Linked DNA regions of Homo sapiens. The protein of the gene in region 2 purifies or fractionates together with the protein of the main gene of each other region. This does not show direct contact. Each region holds a gene or a part of one and is shown on either strand. Other genes may lie near its edges.

The links. The genes of interacting proteins can lie anywhere in the genome.
Region 1: the proteins of DIAPH1 (region 2) and UPF1 fractionate together in Homo sapiens (co-fractionation; 2 studies listed by BioGRID). This does not show direct contact.
Region 3: the proteins of DIAPH1 (region 2) and SOWAHC purify together in Homo sapiens (affinity purification with mass spectrometry; 2 studies listed by BioGRID and IntAct, with this or other methods). This does not show direct contact.

The regions. Positions count from the first base shown.
Region 1 is NC_000019.10:18,848,604-18,856,048, forward strand, and holds part of UPF1 (regulator of nonsense transcripts 1), read left to right. Parts: intron 1-1,471; coding exon 1,472-1,639; intron 1,640-2,084; coding exon 2,085-2,265; intron 2,266-3,531; coding exon 3,532-3,693; intron 3,694-4,383; coding exon 4,384-4,468; coding exon of another isoform or gene 4,469-4,501; intron 4,502-4,648; coding exon 4,649-4,747; intron 4,748-5,973; coding exon of another isoform or gene 5,974-5,997; coding exon 5,998-6,106; intron 6,107-6,275; coding exon 6,276-6,435; intron 6,436-6,520; coding exon 6,521-6,639; intron 6,640-7,321; coding exon 7,322-7,445. UniProt on the Homo sapiens protein: RNA-dependent helicase required for nonsense-mediated decay (NMD) of aberrant mRNAs containing premature stop codons and modulates the expression level of normal mRNAs.
Region 2 is NC_000005.10:141,573,942-141,581,386, reverse strand, and holds part of DIAPH1 (protein diaphanous homolog 1), read left to right. Parts: intron 1-503; coding exon 504-643; intron 644-2,190; coding exon 2,191-2,299; intron 2,300-2,761; coding exon 2,762-2,872; intron 2,873-3,043; coding exon 3,044-3,162; intron 3,163-3,795; coding exon 3,796-3,912; intron 3,913-4,515; coding exon 4,516-4,631; intron 4,632-5,092; coding exon 5,093-5,157; intron 5,158-6,240; coding exon 6,241-6,420; intron 6,421-7,178; coding exon 7,179-7,445. UniProt on the Homo sapiens protein: Actin nucleation and elongation factor required for the assembly of F-actin structures, such as actin cables and stress fibers. Binds to the barbed end of the actin filament and slows down actin polymerization and depolymerization.
Region 3 is NC_000002.12:109,609,608-109,617,453, forward strand, and holds the start of SOWAHC (ankyrin repeat domain-containing protein SOWAHC), read left to right. Parts: upstream 1-4,756; 5' UTR 4,757-4,882; coding exon 4,883-6,460; 3' UTR 6,461-7,846. Other genes in the region: SEPTIN10 (septin-10), read right to left, coding at 4,191-4,220.

The DNA.
Region 1 (7,445 bases), on a different chromosome or scaffold from region 2:
CCCGGAGGCAGGCTTACTTGTGCTGACACAAGCCCCTCCTGTGCCTTTGACAGCTGTGGGTCTCGGAGGGTTACAGATGGAGCAGTCAGATCTCGTGGCATCTCTGAGTTAGTAACTTGAAATATGGTGTTATGAGCAAGGCCAGAAAGGGGCTGCTGTTTTTAAAAGATTTTAAAGAAGGGTATCTTCTGGATAACCAAAAGACATTCTTGTCCCATTTTCAGAATCTTCTGGGTAATTTAAGTGTTGCTATGTTTGCATTTAGTTCCTCTTGTTCAGGAAAAGCAACTAAATAAAACTTCTCTTAGCTGGCAACCCCAGCTTCCGGTCAGCATAGCCAAGAACAGGGAAGTGAGCAAAAGGGCCTCTGAGAAACAACAGGCTTGAGCCAAGCACCACTGAGCATTCTGTGCGAGGCCCAGGGGAAGGTGAGGAAGCAGCCGCTGGCCCTTAGGGATCTTGGCTGTGACAGGGTGAGGATGCATGAGAAGACACGGAGACAGCTGATTCTGCCCACGTGGCCGGCAGGGCTCCAGAGTGGAGTCGGGCTTTGGAGATGCTCAGAGTGGCCATGGCTGGTTAGAGAATCCTGGGCCTCGTGGCAGGGAGAAGGGTTAGAAGATTAGCTGAGCTGAAGCTTTTGGCAAGAATGGTTTTCCAGAGGGGAAGAGAGAGGGCGCGGTGAGGAAGGCTGGGAGGCCCTGCAGGCGTGTTCAGAGCTGCTGGAGACACCGGAAGAGCCCAAAGGCAGAGCAGCTGGGCATCCTTGTTAGATACGGCAGATAGGTGCTGGAGGGTGGCTGGCTTGGCACAGGGCAGGGTTCAGCCCAGACCGCGGTTTAGGTGAGCAGTGTCCTGGCCACGTCGCAGCAAGGAAGGAGCCGAGCCAGCCAGGGCTTCACACACAGCCCTGGGCTTCTGTAGAACCGCCCCCGCCTCTGCTCAACCTTTTTGCTGCTTTTTGCGGGGGTTTCCAGTCGCCTGCTTATCAGATTTCCCGGCCTGCAGCAAAGCAGGAGGGACTGTTGCTCCTGGAAGTAGGCACAGGGCCTCTGAGGAGTGATTTCAGAAGAAGCCACAGAAGATGGTGGCGGGGGTTGACCTTGGAAAGAAGGGGCTGGGGCCTTGTGGGAAATGTCTCTGACCCCACAGCAGCCCTGGGCCAACAATGGGTTAAATTAGGCCTGATAAGTTGGATTTAAGAAAGCAGGATTTTTAAAAAAGGCAGGAACTATGTGAACCGTGTTAAGGAAGTTTTCCTTAAAGTGGTTCAAGTTGGGATTGATTTTTGTGCTCAGTGGGGAGCTAGTTTGGGGGAGGGCTGGCCCCCAGAGATGCCAGATGGATGAGGTGTGACTGCCTCTGCTAATGGACCGTGAACGGTACCGGAACTTTTAACAGGGGCCCGAAAATTGGAAGTGGTGAAAAGCCAAATTTTGGGTGTTAACCGTTTATCATTTCCTGGTTTCAGCCACATTGTAAATCACCTTGTGAGGGCAAAATGCAAAGAGGTGACCCTGCACAAGGACGGGCCCCTGGGGGAGACAGTCCTGGAGTGCTACAACTGCGGCTGTCGCAACGTCTTCCTCCTCGGCTTCATCCCGGCCAAAGCTGACTCAGTGGTGGTGCTGCTGTGCAGGTGAGTGGTCCCCAGATGTCTCCTGGGGGTGACCTTTAAGCTCCAGCCGTCTCCTCACAAGCCTTGGCCCAGCCCAGCCCAGCCGTGGCTCTAACTCCAGGGAGTTGTCCTCCAAAGATGGTTTTTGCTGAAGGGTGAGGCATGAGAGCGTTTAGGCGCTGAGGCTTGTTAAGGAGTCGGCAGTGCCGTGTAACTCTTTTGGGGCGTTCTGGCTAAGTCATAAAAACAATTCTGTAAAAACAAAGTCTGTTCTGAGTTTTAAGAGTTCAGAGCTCAAGTGCACAGGGAGATGCGATTTATTACTAACAGTTTGAAGGTAATGTGATCACATAATAAAATGCAGGGCATGCCCCTTTGGGTGAAAGGTCAGCATGGGAGGGGGCCCTCCCTGCTCCGGGGCTTCAGGGACGGGAGCTGGTCCTCACGGCCCCCTCCCGCTCTGCAGGCAGCCCTGTGCCAGCCAGAGCAGCCTCAAGGACATCAACTGGGACAGCTCGCAGTGGCAGCCGCTGATCCAGGACCGCTGCTTCCTGTCCTGGCTGGTCAAGATCCCCTCCGAGCAGGAGCAGCTGCGGGCACGCCAGATCACGGCACAGCAGATCAACAAGCTGGAGGAGCTGTGGAAGGTGGGGCTGCCCAGCGGGCCGACCCGTGCCTTCGTGTGGTTTCTGGTTGCGGGGAGGGGAGTGTCTTCAGAGACGGCTTGACCCAGTGAGACCGCTGGAGATTCTCTGAAAGGAATTCAGGCAGACCTCTGCCACCTCTACGTGGAATGACCTCAGGGCACCTTGGTCACCTTCCATCCAGGCAGCCTTACCTGACCGAGAAGATCCTGGCCTTGGGGAAAGGAAAGCTCTGGCTGCTGGAATTTTTCTTGTCTTGCCGGGGTGAGGATGGGTGGTGGGAGGGGAAGAATGGGGCTGGCTGTGGGCAGACTTGTCCTGCAGAGCCTGAACCTGCCCAGACAGGTGGGCTGCGAGAATGTCCTGGGGAAATAGGTTGGTGTCGAGGTCGGCACAGTCAGCTGAGACAGAGGGGAGAGGAGAGGGTGCCGGGTCAAGTAGTGGGTGCCTGGCCCTCCTTCCACAGACAGCCCTCACTTTTCCCCACGGAAGCCTTTCTGTGCTTCCAGCTGTTTAGGATTTTGTGATAAAGTAGTTCTAATAACTAGGCTAGAAGTTTTCATTTGCCTCCCATTCAGTCAGAAATCTCACATAGGAAATGAAGTGCAAGTTAAAATATTTTTTTAAGCATTGTTCAGCCGGGTACCTTTCCACTTGGATTTTCCGGTTGCCAGATGATTTCATGATTCCCGTTTATATCTGAACAGCCCAGAAAATGTCCTGTCCCCACCAGCATGGCACTCACTGAGGGAGCTGGCCCCCAGGGGAAGAGCTGCGGGCCCATGTTGGTCTGGCTCAGGGTTAGCAGACGTGGGAGACAGGCCTCCCGGGCTGTGGACACAGCGAGAGAAACCGGTGGTCTTTGTGGCAGCCTGCGAGGCGGGTTAGCTGCTCTCGTTCACAAGCTGGGCATACTTGGAGGAAGCAGCTGGCTCTGAAGGTGCCCTCTGCTGTGGACAGTGTGTCAGGCTGGTGCCTGGGGCTTTGTAGGCAGGTTCACCCAAGTACCGGAACCCCGCTGGGGTGCGGAGCAGCAGCTGAGGCCCAGGCATGGGCCAGGCCGGTGTGCAGCTCCCTGTGTGGCATGGAGTTCCCGTTCCCAGGGTTCTCCTTGCAGGTGGGGCTGCGCCAGAACCCCTCCATGCCACCCACCGTGGCCCATTCTGAGAAGCGGCATGTGTGCTCCATCCCTCTGGTGCCTCTGCGCCCTCGTTCATTTGCATGTAGGGAAAAACAGGACGAGTGTGGCGCGGTGTTGTTGTCTTCTAGGAAAACCCTTCTGCCACGCTGGAGGACCTGGAGAAGCCGGGGGTGGACGAGGAGCCGCAGCATGTCCTCCTGCGGTACGAGGACGCCTACCAGTACCAGAACATATTCGGGCCCCTGGTCAAGCTGGAGGCCGACTACGACAAGAAGCTGAAGGAGTCCCAGGTGATGTGTGCGAGAGGGCTTGGCCTGGGGTGGGCTCTGGCTCTCACAGCTCTCTCCTCAGGCTTCCAGAGGGAGGTTTTCTCTCCAGGCTGTGGGAGCTGATGTGGGCTGCAGCCGCGACACCTGAGAGTTGGAACTTGCGGATCCGGGCCTGGCAGCCCGGTGGTCTGAGCCCCCGCCCTCAGATCTGACATCAGCCTCAGTGTTTTCTGTTTAAATCCAACACATCTTTCCCAGTGGGGTCCACAGCTTTGCCCACAGTTGCGAGAGTTAGACTCGGGCGTGATCCCTGTGAAGACCACATTTAGGCAACGGGAGCCCTGGAGCGCTGACCTCCCCTCCCTCCCTCCCCTCCTCTTTCTGTCCCTCCCTCCCCTCCTCTTTCTGTCCCTCCCTCCCCTCCTCTCTCTCTTCCTCCCTCCCACAGCAGCTGCTCCCTGGCCACGGAGGCCTCTGGTGTGCGGTGAAGCCTCCAGACGGGATTGGCCTGTGTGTGTTCCGGGGACTCCTAATGGCTTCTCTTTCAGATGTGCCCTTGGTGGCATTTGGGGCTGCAGGTGCCACTCACGGCGCCTGCTCTCACGGCAGAGGCTTGCTGTAGGGCCCGCCTCATGGGGCCTCGGGCATGTGGAGGCCAGGCCCGGGCCTGTGCTGGAGGCTAACCGGGGCTCTTGTTTTTCATGTGCTCAGACTCAAGATAACATCACTGTCAGGTGGGACCTGGGCCTTAACAAGAAGAGAATCGCCTACTTCACTTTGCCCAAGACTGACTCTGGTAATGAGGATTTAGTCATAATTTGGTTAAGAGGTGATTTTAAGTTTTAAAATATTTGTGACCATAAGTAGCATAAATTCCTAGTTCCACCCTTGTAAAGTGCCCCTTAATTTGAACTCTCCCTGGTGGAAGCGACGGCGTGGGTTAAAATGGCCACCTCTCTCACTTTTTTACCTCAAGACATGCGGCTCATGCAGGGGGATGAGATATGCCTGCGGTACAAAGGGGACCTTGCGCCCCTGTGGAAAGGGATCGGCCACGTCATCAAGGTCCCTGATAGTATCCTTCATGTGAAGAGGGTGTGGCCGGCTGGTGGGAGAGGAAAGTGGGGGCATCAGGTGGAGGCCACTGTGGATTTGATGCTCACTGCTGGGCCAGCATCTCATGCTCTGTGGTGGGTGCTGGTTGGCATCGCCCTCCACTGCTCTTAGGAGAATCACAGGGCCTTCACCTTCAGGGGACAGCTGGTTGTATGGTTGCTTCCCCTCTGCCCGAATGGTGATGTTGGTGATGCCACTTGTGTGGCGCGTCCCTGGGCTGACTCTGGAAGTTAATGTATGCCGCTTGTGTGGCACGTCCCTGGACTGACTCTGGAGGTTAATGTGGCTGCAGGAGCGCCTTACCTGGACGCTGACTCTGCACACGGAGGTTCCAGAAGCCAGTGGTCACATGCAGACCCTCTGAGCACACACTTGCTCCCAGGCCATGTTTGGGAATGTGCAGTGACCTCATGGTGATGCAGCCTGCCGGCCAGAGTGGGGCAGCTGTAAGGCACAGGTGCAGTCAGAGGCTTGGGTGGGGAGGAGTCCTGGGAGAAGACACCGCGGGTCAGACTCAGGCTGCCTCTTGGTGACTGGCCAATGCTGCTGGGGCCTGACCATTCAGCGGTGGCCTCCACAGGGGTAGGGAGAGTTGTCTCCCACACCCACCCTGGGCCTGACAAGCTCATCCTGAACACGTGAGACCGGTTTTGGGGCTCGGGGTCGAGGGAAGGGTGTTGCCTACCGGCCACAGCCTCCTGGAGGGCAGTTTGCTTGTGTATGTGGAGCCTTTTGCTTGGCCGTACTGGGAGGGGTGTTGTTTCTGTGGAACTGTGAGAAGAGCTGCTGTGGCCAAAGCTGGGTTCTGCGAGCTCTGCCTGCCCCTGCTGGCCACATGTGCAGGAGCTCCCGGTGAGGTCCTGGGGCCCAGGATGTGGCTGCTCCCTGCTGGTGAGCGCTGCTGGCTTCGCTGCCGCCCTCTGCGTCTCTGAAAGGGGCCTAGATGGGTGGCTGGGAGTGGCAAGGAGGAACTCCAGGCTGGCTGGGGGTGGGACACCGGCTCATGGTGAGGTAGAGTCTTTCTTCAAGGATGCTGTCCTTCTGGTCTCTGGTCTGGTGTTGGCTGCACGTTTTTAGCGTTTGGTGCAGAGCCAGCGGTGTCTTAAGTAACTAAATTTTAAAAACGCTGTTTAAAGAGCGTGTACCAAGGGTGGCCCAGAAAGGTCAGCCCGGCTTTTGACAAGGATGCAAACTTAACTCAGCACACAGATTATGGCGATGAGATCGCCATTGAGCTGCGGAGCAGCGTGGGTGCACCTGTGGAGGTGACTCACAACTTCCAGGTGGATTTTGTGTGGAAGTCGACCTCCTTTGACAGGTACGTCTTCTCCCATCACTGCCCCCTGTTCCCTGGTTGCCACCTGTGGCATCTTTATGAGCCCTCCCCGTCACTGTGGAGTGGGGTTCCCCACCCAGCTCTGCAAACTCAGGATGTCGGAGAGGCGGCCACAGCTGTGCGTGTCGCCAACCCCAAACCCTCCTCACAGGATGCAGAGCGCATTGAAAACGTTTGCCGTGGATGAGACCTCGGTGTCTGGCTACATCTACCACAAGCTGTTGGGCCACGAGGTGGAGGACGTAATCATCAAGTGCCAGCTGCCCAAGCGCTTCACGGCGCAGGGCCTCCCCGACCTCAACCACTCCCAGGTGCGCGCCGTCCTCAGCGCGCGGGGCCTCGCCCATGGGCCGGGACGCAAGCGGAGGCTGCCCCTAACGGCCGCTTGTATTGAAGGTTTATGCCGTGAAGACTGTGCTGCAAAGACCACTGAGCCTGATCCAGGGCCCGCCAGGCACGGGGAAGACGGTGACGTCGGCCACCATCGTCTACCACCTGGCCCGGCAAGGCAACGGGTAGGGCTGACACGGCCCTTGCGGGCAAGACCCGGGAGGGCTTTAGGGTGGCCAGATGGAAGGCCTGGTGCTGGGAGCCTTGGGCTCTGTCACACCGAAGAGAGCACGTGGCGGGTAGTGTCGCCATGGTGCCTACCGCTCTCTATGTGACATTATTCGTGTCAGCTCCAACCTTAGGATTGCATTTTAGTAACCAGGTCTGCTACTGGTTTAGAAAACTGGGGGCAGGGGGGGCATGGCTGCAGCAGCGTGAGTTCCGTGTGCGGCACTTTATAGTGTGGCGGGATGGTGCAAGTTCCAGCCTTGGCATTGCTTGCGGTGGGTAGAGCTGTGAAGCCTGGGCTGTCTGGATCTGAGCTCCTTCGGCATCGTGTCATTACTGCCTGTTAAAAATGTCAGGAGTTTAAGGCCAGCCTGAACAGGGTGAGACGTCTCTACAAAAAAAAAATTCAGAAATTAGCTGGGGGTAGTGGCGTGCACCTGTGGTCCCAGCTACTCAGGAGGCTGAGGTGGGAGGATTGCTTGAGCCCAGGATGTTGAGGCTGCAATTAGCTGAGATCACACCACTGCACTCCAGCCTGGGCAACAGAGCAAGACCCTGTCTCAAAAAACAGAGTCTTGGCTTACTACGTTCACCGAGCTTCCTCTGGGTAAGCACTGAGCTGCCCCAATGGTGTTGCAGGCCGGTGCTGGTGTGTGCTCCGAGCAACATCGCCGTGGACCAGCTAACGGAGAAGATCCACCAGACGGGGCTAAAGGTCGTGCGCCTCTGCGCCAAGAGCCGTGAGGCCATCGACTCCCCGGTG
Region 2 (7,445 bases):
CCACAAAATTAGATATCTTAACAGAAATTTATTATCTCACAATTCTAGAGGCTAGAATTTCAAAATCCAAGGTACCAGCACGGTTGGTTCTTTCTGAAGCTGTATATGGTAATATGTTCCATATCCCTCCTAGTTTCTGGTAGCTTGTTGGCAATCCTTGGCACTCCTTATCTTGTAGATGCATCATCCTGATCTCTGCCTATGTGATCACATGGTGTTCTCCCTCTGTATGTATCCATATCCAAATTTCCTCTTTTTATAAGGACACTGGTCATATTGGATTAAGGACCCTTTCTACCCCAGCAGGACTTCATTGTAGCTTGACTAATTATATTTGCAATGAGTATATTTCCAGATGAGGTTACATTTTGAGGTACTGGGGGTTGGGACTTCAACACTGGAATTTAAGAGGACACCATTCAACCCATAACAACCCGTAAACTTGTCCCCCAGTTAGATGCTTTCGTCTTTCAGCCTCCTTTCTTTGTTCTTGGTCCTACCAGTTTGGAATCAAGACCATGTTGGAGACAGAAGAAGGAATCCTACTGCTGGTCAGAGCCATGGATCCTGCTGTTCCCAACATGATGATTGATGCAGCTAAGCTGCTTTCTGCTCTTTGTATTCTACCGCAGCCAGAGGACATGTATGTGACTGGAATAATTTTTCTTCTCCATTTTCAATTTTATCATTTTCTCTTAGTTCAGAGGACAATTGAGTTGGTTGGGTGTCCTCTCGGTCATAAATACTAGGTAAGATTGTGTTTCTTCCCAGAAGTGAACACTAAGCATCTTAAAATTTAAGAACAATTCCTAAGTGATGGGTGCTATCCTGAATGTTCCACTGGTCATCAGAGGTATAGCAAAATGTCTCCTATATCTCCATTAATATCTGTATTGTCTAGGATGAGGGTTTCTTTTTACTATTCTTTTTTTTTTTAATTCAGAAGTGGCACAATGTTATTTTTAAAACTCAAACGATATAGAAGTATATAAAGTAAAATTTAACTGCCTCATCCCTTTGCCAAATCCTATTCTGCAAAGAGAATGACTGTTAATGGCATGGTATAGTCTCATAGAACGTTTCCTAAGCATAGACAAACATATTGCGTTCCCTTGATTCTAGACATCTGCCACCGCAAAAGATAGTATCTTAAGAGCTGAGGAATGACACTTATGCCTATAAAACTAACTGCATATATAGGATAGATTTTTATTATTGAAGAGGGATTTGGTTTAACCAAAGCTAAATCATTCTTTTCAACCTGTTTCTTTTTAATAGTAGATCTTGGACATTTCTTCTATGTCGGTACTTACAGATCTACCTTATTATCTTTAGTAGCTATTTAGTATTCCATATACATGTATGTATGGCCTATAATTTATTTAACAATTCCCCTGTTGCTGGACTTACAGATTTTTTTTTTTTCCTTTTTTTTTTTTGAGACGGAGGCTCGCTCTGTTCCCCAGGCTGGAGTGCAGTGGCGCGATCTCGGCCCACTGCAAACTCCTCCTCCCAGGTTCAAGCGATTCTCCTTCCTCAGCCTCCCGAGTAGCTGGGACTACAGGAGTCCGCCACCACGCCTGGCTAATTTTTGTATTTTTAGTAGAGATGGGGTTTCTCCCTATTGGCCAGGCTGGTCTCGAACTCCTGACCTTGTGATCCGCCCGCCTCGGCCTCCCAAAGTGCTAGGATTACAAGCGTGAGCCACTGCGCCCAGCCAACTTACAGATATTTTTTAAAGCAGATTTCACTATCTGTTCTAGGTGATCATTTTTACAAATGATACTGCAGTGAACATCCTTGTGCATATCTTCTTTCACATTTATGCCCATATGTTGGATACATTTCTAGAAGTAGACTATATGTTACATGCATGAGAAATTGATTAGTACTGTTAAATGCCCCTCCAAAAGTTGTATCAATTTATACTTCATTGAATAGGGGACTTGATTTGGTATTTATGGACAGGAGCCTAGGGATGGATTGTAGGGAATGCATTTCCCTGAAGAGATGGTCCTTAGCTTTCAGCAGTTTCTGGAAACTGAGTGGTGAGAATAATAATGTGAGAAATCCGGAACACTGATAATGTCCTGTTTCCTAATCGGTCTGTGCCCCTGTGTAATTTACTCATTATACGTGTCCGTGTCACAGTACCTGGAAAGTTCTCTCCGTTTCCTTTCTCTTGGGCAGGAATGAAAGGGTTTTGGAGGCAATGACAGAAAGAGCTGAGATGGATGAAGTGGAACGTTTCCAGCCGCTGCTGGATGGATTAAAAAGTGGAACCACTATTGCACTGAAGGCATGTATATCCCCTGAAACTGGGCCCAAGAATAGAATTCAAGATGGACAGACTTAAATTCATTTGACCTTTTAATAAAATACATGGAGTGCCTCCCAACTATATATTTTACATTTCAGAATCTGTTATGAAGGGAAAATGATTAACCTTCTTTCTAAGAAGGTAAAGAATGAACTGTTTTCCTCATTATGAGATGGAAAAAGGCATGATATCTATTTACAATCTAGGAAAACCAAGACCTACAATAACATATACTCTCAAATCCTTGAAACCATTTAGAGTTTAGGCTCTCCGGATCTGTACTCAAACCAGGTCTCATTGCTATAGTAGAAAAGTCATCTTTAGAGTTTTTGTATTGTATCTTTCAGGTTGTATTGGGGACCTAAGAATGCATGTAAAGAAAATGGATTCTTGATCTCCAGGAGTTAGCATTGACATAGCTGCTGAATTTTCTTATTTTAGGTTGGATGCCTACAGCTGATCAATGCTCTCATCACACCAGCGGAGGAACTTGACTTCCGAGTTCACATCAGAAGTGAACTGATGCGTTTGGGGCTACATCAGGTGTTGCAGGTAAGATATTACACTTCATTAGAAAGGCTAGACTGGTTCCTTCTTGCTCTACAGCCCCAATAATCCCGGGGATAATTCTGGTTTTCAATTAAAAACCAGGTTGAAAAGCTTAGGTTTCTAACCACAGAGGATACTTTTGGGTTCCCTGACTTCTACTTTTGTTGTTGACAGGACCTTCGAGAGATTGAAAATGAAGATATGAGAGTGCAACTAAATGTGTTTGATGAACAAGGGGAAGAGGATTCCTATGACCTGAAGGGACGGCTGGATGACATTCGCATGGAGATGGAATATCCTTTTGCTGACTAGGTTCAAGGCAGATGAGACATTCATTGTATTTAGTTCCCTGATCCCTGTGTGGAATGGTTTGGGAGATGATGACTCAGAACAGAGCATCAGGCTTATGTGTCTTCTCATTAAATAAGGCAGGTGTATTTTTATTGCGCTGGCTTTACTTAGCTTATCATAGATCAGGGAAGTCAGTAAAGGTGATCTGAGGGTTGTTGAGCATGGAAGCCATCAAAATCAGTGTAAACTTCCTAGAATGTGATAGCTTAGCTTACTAAGATGTAGAACTGGCTTTTAGAGATGTTTGGACTGACAGAGGGAGTAATTTAGTTACCTGTTAATATTTTCAGTAAGTGACTTTGAGGCAGTTACCTCTTATTTTCTGTCTACTGCCTGATCTTCAAGCCAAGTACTTACTAGGAATCCTCTGTGTGTATAGTACCACCCAATTCACTGGTCCCTTAAAGGACGTTTTAGAAAGCTTAAAGTTTCTGGTGATGTTTACAGGAAGAACAGCCAGTAGAATGGAAGTGGTGTCTTGCTACTTTTCCCTAGCTTTTTCAAGAGTTAAATAAGCCACCTGTCAAACATAATTTCTGCATATTTGCTTTCCTTAGCCTATTTCCCTTTTCCACTGACTTTAATGAAGTCTTTCAGATTCTCTTAAACACAGTGAAGGATTCAAAGGCAGAGCCACACTTCCTTTCCATCCTGCAGCACTTACTCTTGGTCCGAAATGACTATGAGGCCAGGTAAGATGCTGTGCTTATGAGAAGTTTTGAATTTGAGCCTAAGTGGAGAGAGTGAATTCCTTAAATTCAAAGATTGTTCTGTAAAAGGAAAATGTAAAGACAAAGACCCAAGATTAGGGTTCATTAGTCACCGATATAAAGGAAGTTGTCTTATTTCTTTAATCCAACTCAAAGGCATCCCTATGGCAGAGGTCAGAGTGTATAAGGTGAAATGCCGTTCTGTTTTTGGAGGGGAGTAGGTAAATAGGATGAAGATGTTAGCAAACAGAAGTGGCAATTTAAAATTCTTTCTAGTTTCCTGGAAGTATAGATTTAGCAATAGCACTATCCATCACAGGAAGGATCAAACGCAAATTTTTAGATGGGAAAGTATTGGCACTAGGAGCGGATGGCAAGAAGTTTTGATTATTTGAAGTAGATAGGGTAGGGTAGCTGATGTGGAAAAAGGAGTTTTCTTAGCATGGCAGCAATACTTGTGTTAACTTTACAAAAGTTTTTCCAGGTCTCTCAGTTGTCAGAGCAATTACGTTTTCTTGGTCCTGAATACTTCTGAAAATTATATTTTGATTTTCCTTTGATGACCCTGTTTTTATTCTCTTGTAGACCTCAGTACTATAAGTTGATTGAAGAATGTATTTCCCAGATAGTTCTGCACAAGAACGGGGCTGATCCTGACTTCAAGTGCCGGCACCTCCAGATTGAGATTGAGGGATTAATTGGTAAGCATACTCTTCTATCTGGCTCCTCCAAGTATTGCTTCTTCCTTTCATTTTGCATCTTGTTTCAGTGAAAATGTCAGAGAAGATACCTTTCCAGTCCCCAGATAGTTCTATTTTTGTCCTTTCTTAGGTCATAACCAGCATCTTTGCTAGGAATCTATAGGTCTTTAGTTTATTTTTAGATAAAACACACACCAGCACCTTTTGCAGGAACTCCTGGTGGTCTCAGAGAGTCAAAAATATCACTCATAGGCATTCTTCTTGCCACCCAGCATGGTGGCCTTACCGCACACTCAGATTACATGTTGAACTTAACTGAAAGTTCCATTTCTTTGTCTAGTGCAGAACATTAAGAAAGATAATAAAAATGATCAAAAAGACTGTTCTTTGGAAGGGTGTAGTGTGAAAGAAATAGAACAAGAGAATTAGGAGCTTTACTTACTGACTCTTCTTCTTTTCAGATCAAATGATTGATAAGACAAAGGTGGAGAAATCTGAAGCCAAAGCTGCAGAGCTGGAAAAGAAGGTGCATATGAGAGACCAAAGACATGTGTTTGAGTATATCTTTCTTTGAGAATTATTATTTTCCTGATCTATGAGACAGTTTTCCTCTGTGGTATTTTGGAAGCGTTTAGCACCCAATAGTGTAGTTCCCAGGGGAAACCTTTCCAGTATAGGGTAGTCATTGGAGAAAGTGATATGGATGTCTTCATAGGGAGCTCTAGTGGTGGACTTTCAGTTCTTGGGCTACTGGGCAGGAAAAGAAAGACAGATGATACTCATGTAATAGTAATGGCACTCTCAGGTTTGCTTGGCATTTTAGGCCTCTTACCCCTAGAACAATAGGAACTGGGGTCCTTAGAGCAATAGAACTAGAGGATGTCTGAGTTCTCTTTTTCTCTTCAGTTTTTAAGAACGTTTATTGTGGTTAATAGGTTTTTGATCCTAGAGAATATTGGGATTGTACTACCATGGTCGTCCTCGTTAAATACCTTTAAAATCTTATTTTTTTTAACTATAAAAATAGGGAATCTGTGGAAATGAACTGATTCCCCTCTCCTTTAACCTTGTTTTATTTTCATTTTTATTTTTATTTGTTTTTTTTTTGAGACGGAGTCTCACTCTGTCATCCAGGCTGGAGTGCAGTGGCGCGATCTCGGCTCACTGCAACCTCTGTCTCCTGGGTTCAAGCAGTTCTCCTGCCTCAGCCTCCCAAGTAGCTGGGATTACAGGTGCCCACCACCATGCCCGGCTAATTTTTGTATTTTTGGTAGAGGCTAGGGTTCACCATGTTGGACAGGTTGGTCTCGAACTTCTGACCTCAGGTGATCCACCTGCCTCGGCCTCCCGAAGTGCTGGGATTACAGGTGTGAGCCACTCCGCCCAGCCAAACCTTGATTTTAAGGTCAGAATCATGGTGCTTTTTTCCCCCGAGCATGGCCTGGATTTATGAGCTCTGTAAATCAAGTACTGGCCCAGAACAGGAGGCAGTGGGGGGATTCCAGCACCCCCAGGCAAAAGAGGAGGTAGGGAGAATTATGGGTAATAATACTTGTGCTTCTTACTGAGATGGAGAGCTTGCTGGGAGCCTGATTCGTTTTTTCTCTAGTTGGACTCAGAGTTAACAGCCCGACATGAGCTACAGGTGGAAATGAAAAAGATGGAAAGTGACTTTGAGCAGAAGCTTCAAGATCTTCAGGGAGAAAAAGATGCACTGCATTCTGAAAAGCAGCAAATTGCCACAGAGAAACAGGACCTGGAAGCAGAGGTGTCCCAGCTCACAGGAGAGGTAATGCCTGAGCAGGGAAGGCAGAATGACCTGTAACCTCAGGATGCACATGGCTTGGAACAGGAGTCAGTCATCTCGCTCCTAGGGAGGGTTCAGCTACTAATAGGTAATCTAGTTACATGGTGCATATTTTAAAAATAATATACTGGTTTTTGGTTTGTGTTGGGGGTAAGTAATACATAAGACAGAAAATCTGGAAAATACAGAAAAACATTAAGAATAAAGTAAGTTTCATTACCACCCAGAAATAAAAGTAATAAGTCTCCTAATAAATTAGGAATAAAAACTAAACTGTTAAAAATTGACTAATTTCCTGTTATTTTAGTCACCTCTGCACAGATTTATCCTTACACACTCTCTCTGCAGTAGTAAATACTTAAATGATCTTTGATGTCTGATAACTTGATTACTTATGTGGTTATATAATCATCTGTGTAGCACATATATTAGTTATATAACTAGAACATTTAATTTACTTGACCTTTACATTTTCTAATCAAGGGAGGGTTTAACATAAAGGTTGAAATTGTCTTCTTAATACAAAGCATGCTGAACTAAGAACATGAAAACCTGAATTCTAGTTTTGGCTCTGCTGCCAAGCCGTGTGACTTTAGGTGATCATGTCATCTCTCTGACTCCTCTCAGTTCCTCCATTTGTAACATGAGAAGTTTGGATTAAGTAGTTTATTAGGTTCCTTCCAGTCCCAGTAGTCCCTGAAGTGGGGTGAGAAGTACTCACATTGATGTTATTTCTGTAGGTTGCCAAGCTGACAAAGGAACTGGAAGATGCCAAGAAAGAAATGGCTTCCCTCTCTGCGGCAGCTATTACTGTACCTCCTTCTGTTCCTAGTCGTGCTCCTGTTCCCCCTGCCCCTCCTTTACCTGGTGACTCTGGCACTATTATTCCACCACCACCTGCTCCTGGGGATAGTACCACTCCTCCTCCTCCTCCTCCTCCTCCTCCTCCTCCACCTCCTTTGCCTGGGGGTGTTTGCATCTCCTCACCCCCTTCTTTACCTGGAGGT
Region 3 (7,846 bases), on a different chromosome or scaffold from region 2:
TCCGCCTCAAAAAAAAAAAAAAAAAAAGATCAAGAAAGAATTAAGAATCACAACTTCAAGACAGAAAGTAAAACAAATGAGAAGCCTCTTAGATACGAAAATTATCCTCACTGAAGAAAAACTGAGAAGGAATGAGAAAAAAAGTTCAGAAGCATTGTAGCTAAAACAGGAAATGACAAATGCGGACAGGAATTGCAAAGATTTGGTCACCACTTAAAAGGTAAGGATAACTGAAGAAGTGGAAAATTATGGCTGTGTTTCTCGGGAGATGAAAAGGCAGTCAGTGGACTGTACTCAACACTATTTCAAGATCCACTATCTCAGTCAACAATAACTAATTATACAGCCAGGATCTCCTGAATCATAAAATGATGCAATTCCTAATAAGGAGCATGGTGGAGATAATGGCAGGGACAATATGACACAGAGCAGATCTCACAATCACTAGCTGTGATTCCTTAAGCGAGACACTAAACTTCCCTGAGGTGTTTTTTTTTTTTTAGACAGAGTCTCACTCTGTCGCCAGGCTGGAGTGCAGTGGCGCGATCTCAGCTTACTGCAACCTCCACCTCTCAGGTTCAAGTGATCCTCCTGCCTCAGCCTCCCAAGTAGTTGGGACTACAGGCGCATGCCACCAAGCCCAGCTAATTTCCTGTATTTTTAGCAGAGATGGGGTTTTACGGTGTTGGCCAGGATGGTCTCAATCTCTTGACCTCATGATCCATCCATCTGGGCCTCCCAAAGTGCTGGGATTACAGGTGTGAGCCACTGCGCCCAGCCACTTCCCTGAATTTTAATATCCTCTTCTATTAAAAAAAAGGTCTGGGCCGGGCATGGTGGCTCACGCCTGTAATCCCAACACTTCGGGAGACTGAGACGGGTGGATCACCTGAGGTTGGGAGTTCAAGACCAGCTTGACCAACATGGAGAAACCCTGTGTCTACTAAAAATACAAAAAATTAGCCGGGCGTGGTGGCACATGCCTGTAATCCCAACTACTCAGGAGGCTGGGGTAGGAGAATCGCTTGAACCAGGGAGGTGGAGGCTGCGGTGAGCTGAGATCATGCTATTGAACTCCAGCCTGGGTGACAAAGCGACATTCCGTCTTCAAAAAAAAAGAGAGAAATGAAGAGAAATACTATGTACATGAGTTAGAAGACTCAACATAGTAAAGCTATCAATTCTCCCTAAATCGATATAAACATTTAATGTAATTCCTCTCGAATCCCAGCAAAATTATTTGTAAATATAGATAAGACGATTCTAAAACTTACACAGAGAGGCACAGAACTAGAATAGCTAAAAATCTGGGGGAGAGAAGAATAAAGTGGGAGAAATCAGTCTACCTTATTTCAGACTTACACAGCTACAGGAATCAAGACTGCGTGCTAACGGAGAACCCAGAAACAGACTGAAACAGACCCACACAAATATGCTCAACTGACTTTTGACAAAAGTGCATCAACAACTCAATAATGGAAAGGGAGCCTATTCAACAAATGGTGCTGGAGCAACTGGACATCCATAGGCCAAAAAATGGCCCTCAACTTAAGTCTGACACCTAACAGAAAAATTAACTCAAAATGGGTCATAACATAAATGTAAAACATAAACTATAAAACTTTTAGGAAAAAAATAAGAGAAAATCTTTGGGATCTAAGGTTAGGCAAAGAGTTCTTAAACTTGACACCAAAAGCACAATCCATAAAAGGAAATAATGATAAATTTCAACAAAACTGAAAACTTTTGCTTTGCAAAAGACCCTGTTAGAAGATGAAAAGATAAACTACAGACTGAAAGAGAACATTTTCAAATCACATATCTGAGAAAGGACTGGAATCTAGTATACCTAAAAAACTTTAAACCCAACAGAAAAAAAAAATCTAACTAGAAAATAGGCAACATGTTGGGAGGCTGAGACGGGAGGATCGCTTGAGCCCAGGAGTTTGAGACCAGCCTGGGCAACATGGTCACACCCCTGCCTCTACAAAAAATACAAAAATTTAGCCGGCTGTGGTGGTGCACACCTATAGTCCTAGCTACTTGGGGTGGCTGAGGCAGGAGGATCGCTTGAGCCCAGGAGATTGAGGCTGAGGTTGAAGTGAGCCATCTTGGCACCACTGCACTCTAGCCTGGGTGACAATACGAGAAATCCAAGTTAAAATCACCATGAGGTGTCACTATATACCTATAAGAATGGCTAAATTAAAAATAAGGACACCACCAAATGCTGGTAAGGATGTGCAGAAACTGGACCTCTCATACTTTCCTGGTAGGGATGCAAAATAATACAGCCATTCTGAGAAAGTCTGGCAGTTTCTTACAAAACTAAGCATGCAACTACCATATGACCCAACAATTGTATTCCTGGGCATCTATCCCAAAGAACTGAAGACTTATGCTTACATTATGAGTTACTGTACATGAATGTTTATAGCAGCTTTATTGCCAATAGCCAACAACTGAAAACAACCTAGATATCCTTCAAACTGTGGCACAATCATACCATGGAATACTACCCCAGCAAACTGCAGATATATGCAACAACCTGGATGAATCTCCAGAACTTTGCTGAGTTGAAAAAAAAAAAATCCAATCTCAAAAGGTTACTAACTGGGTGATTCCATTATATAAGTCTTGGAATGACAAAATTATAAGAATAAAAACGAATCACTGATTGTCTGGGGTTAAGAAGGAGGCAGGGCAGGAAAGAAGTGTGTGTGGTTATAAAAAGGCATTAAGGGATCCTCCTGGTCCTGGGAACATCCTTTATCTTCACTGTATCAATCAATGACAATATGCTGGTTGTGATATCGTACTATGGGTTTGCCAGATCTTATTGTGGAAAGGTGGATAAAGGGTACAGGGTTCTCACTATACTGTATTATTTCTTACAACTGCATATTAATCTACAATTAACGCAAAATACAGTTTAATTCGAAAATAAGTAAAGTTAGCCTCAAAGCAAATTAAGTACAATTAAAAATAAATCTAACATCAGCTAAATGAAGTGTTCTCTTCTGCTCAAGCTTGTTTGGATACGTAATCTATGAATCAAAGAATTTATAAAACACATTTTCCTCACCAGGACCCCTCAATTTTCCCTCACTCACACATGCACACAAACACAGCAACTGAGACAAGGGGGTCCAGACAGAAAATTTGAGATTTTTAAAAAATACGCGATAGAATGAAAAGAGACCTGGGCTGAATCAGGGAGAAAAATCTTTGTCCAGGTTCTATAAAACAAACCAACGGTGTCACTTTGGACGGATCCTCTAATCTCTCAGCCTGCAATCTGAACTGTTTCTACAATTTAAACTTCTCATGTAGGAGGTTGCTTAGTAGAGTGGTTCTCAAACTTTTTGGTCTCCAGCCTCCAAAGAGCTTTTGTTTACACAGATGAAAACCACCAATGTTTACTATCAAAAATTAAAAGGGAGAATTTGTTTTTAAGAATACACAGGCATCGGGCCTCCAAACGGCGGTGAGATCACTCCATACCATGTAGCCTTTGGAAAACTCGATGTACACGACCTTGGTACTATTAACGAAAATAGTTGTAACCACACTTGGAAAACCGCTGGCTTACTAACAAGCGAGATAAATCTACAAAAGTAACTGGAAAGGTTCAAAACAGTGAACAAACGCGTTCTTTTAGAGTACAAAAGAGTCAAGGCGGGAAAAAAACGGTTTAAAATCCCAATGGAGGAAAACTTGGACGACCACACCATCGGATAAAACGGGAGAGCTTTTGAAAAGCCAGGGGAGCCGGGCTTTCTCCCGGCGGCAGGGAGGCTCGGAAGTGCTCACGGCTGCAAAAGATGACCGCTATTCAATCAGTCCGCACTGCGCCTTCAACTCCGTTATAGCCGTAAGAGACCCACAAACACCGCTGTGGATGTAACTTTTGGCAAAGACCGGGAAGTCGTTCAAGAACTCTCCCACCGTCCCGACGCTGGCGCCGCGCCCCGCGAACCGGGGTCCGGCCGCGCCCAGGCTCCGCAGAGGCTCCTCTCCCGCCCCAGGCGCCCGGCCGCCGCGGAAGCCGGGGAGCACTGGGCGGGCGGGGCCGGAGGGGGCGCGGGTCACAATCCCGGGCCGGACCAGGGGGCCGGTGGGTCGAGGGCGGGAAGTCCCGCGGGGGCCGGGGAGCGCGGGGCTGGGGCCCCGGCGTCGGCGGGACTCACCAGGTGCCGCGCCACCTCGGAGGAGGCCATGGTCGCGGGCAGGGGCACGGTGAAGCGGCTGTATCAGCCCGGCCCCGAGCGGCTGGTCCCGGCGACGGCGGCGGGAAGGCCGGAGGGCAGAAGCAACGGGCGGGGCGCGAGGCTAGGCTGCCTCCGCGACGGGGAAGGGACAGGGGCGGGGCCGAGCTGGAGGCCTCCGGGGGCGGGGTTGGGGCGGACGCCCTGTGGTGCGCGCTGAGCGTTTTGCCTGCGCCAAGCGAGCCCCTCACAGGAGCTACCCTCGACGCCTGAGGACTGAGCGTCAGCGTTGGGGCGGGCTGAAGGAGAGCTGGGACTCCAGGAAGACGGCGCGAGGAATGCAGGCGGGAACTGCGGAGCAGTGATTGCGGCCCTCGCGAGGCCGGAAGTGGGCGGGCCTTGAGGCGAGGCCGCCCTAGGTAGGTGTGGCCGAGACAGCGGGGAGCGGAAGTGGGCGTGGCCTGGTGGCGTGGGCGCGGGGCGGGGGTGCGGGGGGCGTGTCCGCCCGGGCGCGGCCCAGTGAGGCGGTGGCCGAGTCCTCTGGCCTCAGACGCGTAGGCTGGCAGCCCGCTGAGCCCGCCAGACTCCGCCGCCGTCGGGAGCCGGCCGCTGGGAGCCCGTCGCTATGGGACCGCGCTGAGCCGCCCGCTGGCGGGGGAGCAGCGCGGTCGAGGATGGAGGGGCCGGCAGAGTGGGGCCCCGAGGCGGCGCTGGGCCCCGAGGCGGTGCTGCGCTTCCTGGCGGAGCGCGGGGGCCGGGCCCTGCACGCCGAGCTGGTGCAGCACTTCAGGGGCGCCCTAGGCGGCGAACCGGAGCAGCGCGCCCGCGCCCGCGCGCACTTCAAGGAGCTGGTGAACGCCGTGGCCACTGTGCGCGTCGATCCCGCCGACGGCGCCAAGTACGTGCACCTCAAGAAGAGGTTCTGTGAAGGGCCGTCCGAGCCCTCCGGGGACCCGCCGCGAATCCAGGTGACCGCCGAGCCCGAGGCCCCCGACGGCCCTGCCGGGCCCGAGGCGCGCGATCGGCTCCCCGACGCGGCGGCCCCGGAGTCGCTCCCTGGACAGGGCCGCGAGCTGGGCGAGGGAGAGCCCCCCGCCCCCGCGCACTGGCCGCCCCTGAGCGCCGGGGCTCGCAGGAAGAACTCGCGGCGCGACGTGCAGCCCCTACCGCGGACTCCAGCCCCGGGGCCCAGCGAGGACCTGGAGCTCCCGCCACATGGCTGCGAGGAGGCGGACAGGGGCAGCTCCCTTGTGGGGGCTACCGCACAGAGGCCGGCCCGCCAGAACCTCCGTGACCTGGTGATGGGCAGCTCCCCGCAGCTGAAGAGGAGCGTGTGTCCCGGGGGCAGCAGCCCGGGCAGCTCCTCCGGGGGAGGACGCGGCAGAGGCGGGGGCGACTCAGACAGCGCATCGGTGGCCTCGTCGTCCGCGGAGGAGGAGAGCAGCGGCGGAGGCTCCGTGACGCTGGACCCCCTGGAGCACGCGTGGATGCTCTCTGCCTCCGATGGCAAGTGGGACAGCCTGGAGGGCTTGCTCACCTGCGAGCCCGGCCTGCTGGTCAAGCGGGACTTCATTACCGGCTTCACTTGCCTGCACTGGGCCGCCAAGCACGGCAGGCAGGAGCTTCTGGCCATGCTAGTCAACTTCGCCAACAAACACCAGCTGCCGGTGAACATCGACGCCAGGACGAGCGGGGGTTACACCGCCCTGCACTTGGCAGCCATGCACGGCCACGTGGAGGTGGTGAAGCTGCTGGTGGGGGCCTACGACGCCGATGTGGACATCAGGGACTACAGTGGGAAAAAGGCCTCCCAGTACCTGAGTCGGAGCATCGCCGAGGAGATCAAGAACCTGGTGGGAGCCCTGGACGAGGGTGACGGGGAAAGCGCCGCGGGTAGCGGCGGCGGGCGCTGGAGGCTTTCAAAGGTGCTTCCCTCGCATCTCATCACCTACAAACTCTCACACGCCCTAGAAGATGGAGGGGACCATCACCACCATCACCACTCGGCTGAGGGGTGGGTCGGAGGCAAAGCCAAGGATCCAGGGCGCAAAGCCTCGGGCAGCTCTAGTGGACGTATAAAACCCAGACTCAACAAAATCCGATTCAGAACCCAGATCGTCCACACCACACCCTCTTTCAGGGACCCAGAGCAGCCGCTGGAGGGCAGGGGGGAGGAGGGAGTGGGGGAGGAACGACCTGTTAAAGGCCACTCGCCCTTCACATTGAGACCAAAGTCCAATGTATTTGGGTAAAAATTGCTTCTTTTAGAAAATGCAAAGGTTTATTTGTCTTAATAAATTGAATACTAGGTGTTGTAAGGAAGTGAGACCAGAAGGACAAGCTAAATTATGCATTCTTACTTGAGGGATCGGAATGGATGGGGCGGAGTTCTCTTCAGGCTAGCCTTCTGGGAAAAGTGGATGTCTTTTTCAGAGATTCATCATACCTTGACCTGTACCTCTTCTCTGCCCTCCACTTCCCTGCCCTGGAGTCCGTTTCTGGAGACTAGAAATGTATCTAAATTGGGGGAACAGAATGAATGAATTAATGAATGAGAGTTCCTTTGCTTTAACCATTCCTGGATGCCTGCAAAGTAAGGAATAATGCAGTTTTTATGTATCTGATTTTATAAGGGGTTACTCTTTCAAGAGTAACAAAAAAATGCAAACTGTAATGAAACTACATTGTATTTCTAAGTGTGAAAACGACAGGCTGCCCCGTTTTTACTAATTGCATTTGCATTTTAAGGTACTACTGAAGGTCAGATCAAAGTTGAAATGCAAAAATACTAATTAGAGAATAATGTGAATAAAATGGGAATCTTCTTGGTATTTTATGTGTATTGTAAGTAGCAGTTAAATTATTTTTTTAAAAGCAATTTCAGTTTTAATCACTGAACAAAAGAAACAGGCAACATTCACTTCTGTAGTATGGTTTCCACCTATCTCTAACACCACTATTAAGGTACACCAGTGTTAAGGTACATTAATAACTACACAAAATTTTATTTAAAGAGAACACTTAGCAGCCTATGATAGTTTTCAATAAAATGTTGCCTCTCTTTCGGATTCTCACTAACTTTTGTTACTATTCTAAAAGTTTGAATTTGCTGGGGTGTTTATTCTGAGGATTATTTAACCATTGTTCTATTTGGCATAACCCTATTTAATGGTGCTTAGAGCTGAATTACCTACAGAAACTGTTTCTGGTTTAAATAATTAGCACAAATTGGCCTAAGTATTCATGAGCCCATGTTTCTGTGAAGTAATTATTAAACCAACTTAATGATTCTTATGTAAGGTACACTTTTTATTTTAATACATTGGTAGTCTCTATGACTTGTAGCAATGTTTTACAAATGTTTAAAATGCTAAACTTAATTTTCCAAGCTTTTCTTGACAATTAGATACCTATCCTGTAGTTACTGAAAATCTGGGTAGTAAATCTACCCAATTAAAATGGCACTTTATAAAAGGGAATAGAGAAGAGATGGGACTATTTCTATATTTAAATGCTGCTGGCTATTCCTTTGTATATAAATGAAAAATACCATTCATTAAAATTAAGTACTCGTTTAAGTATGGTTCTTAATTACATTTCATTCATTTATATTAGAGTAAATGGCTTCATAACTACTT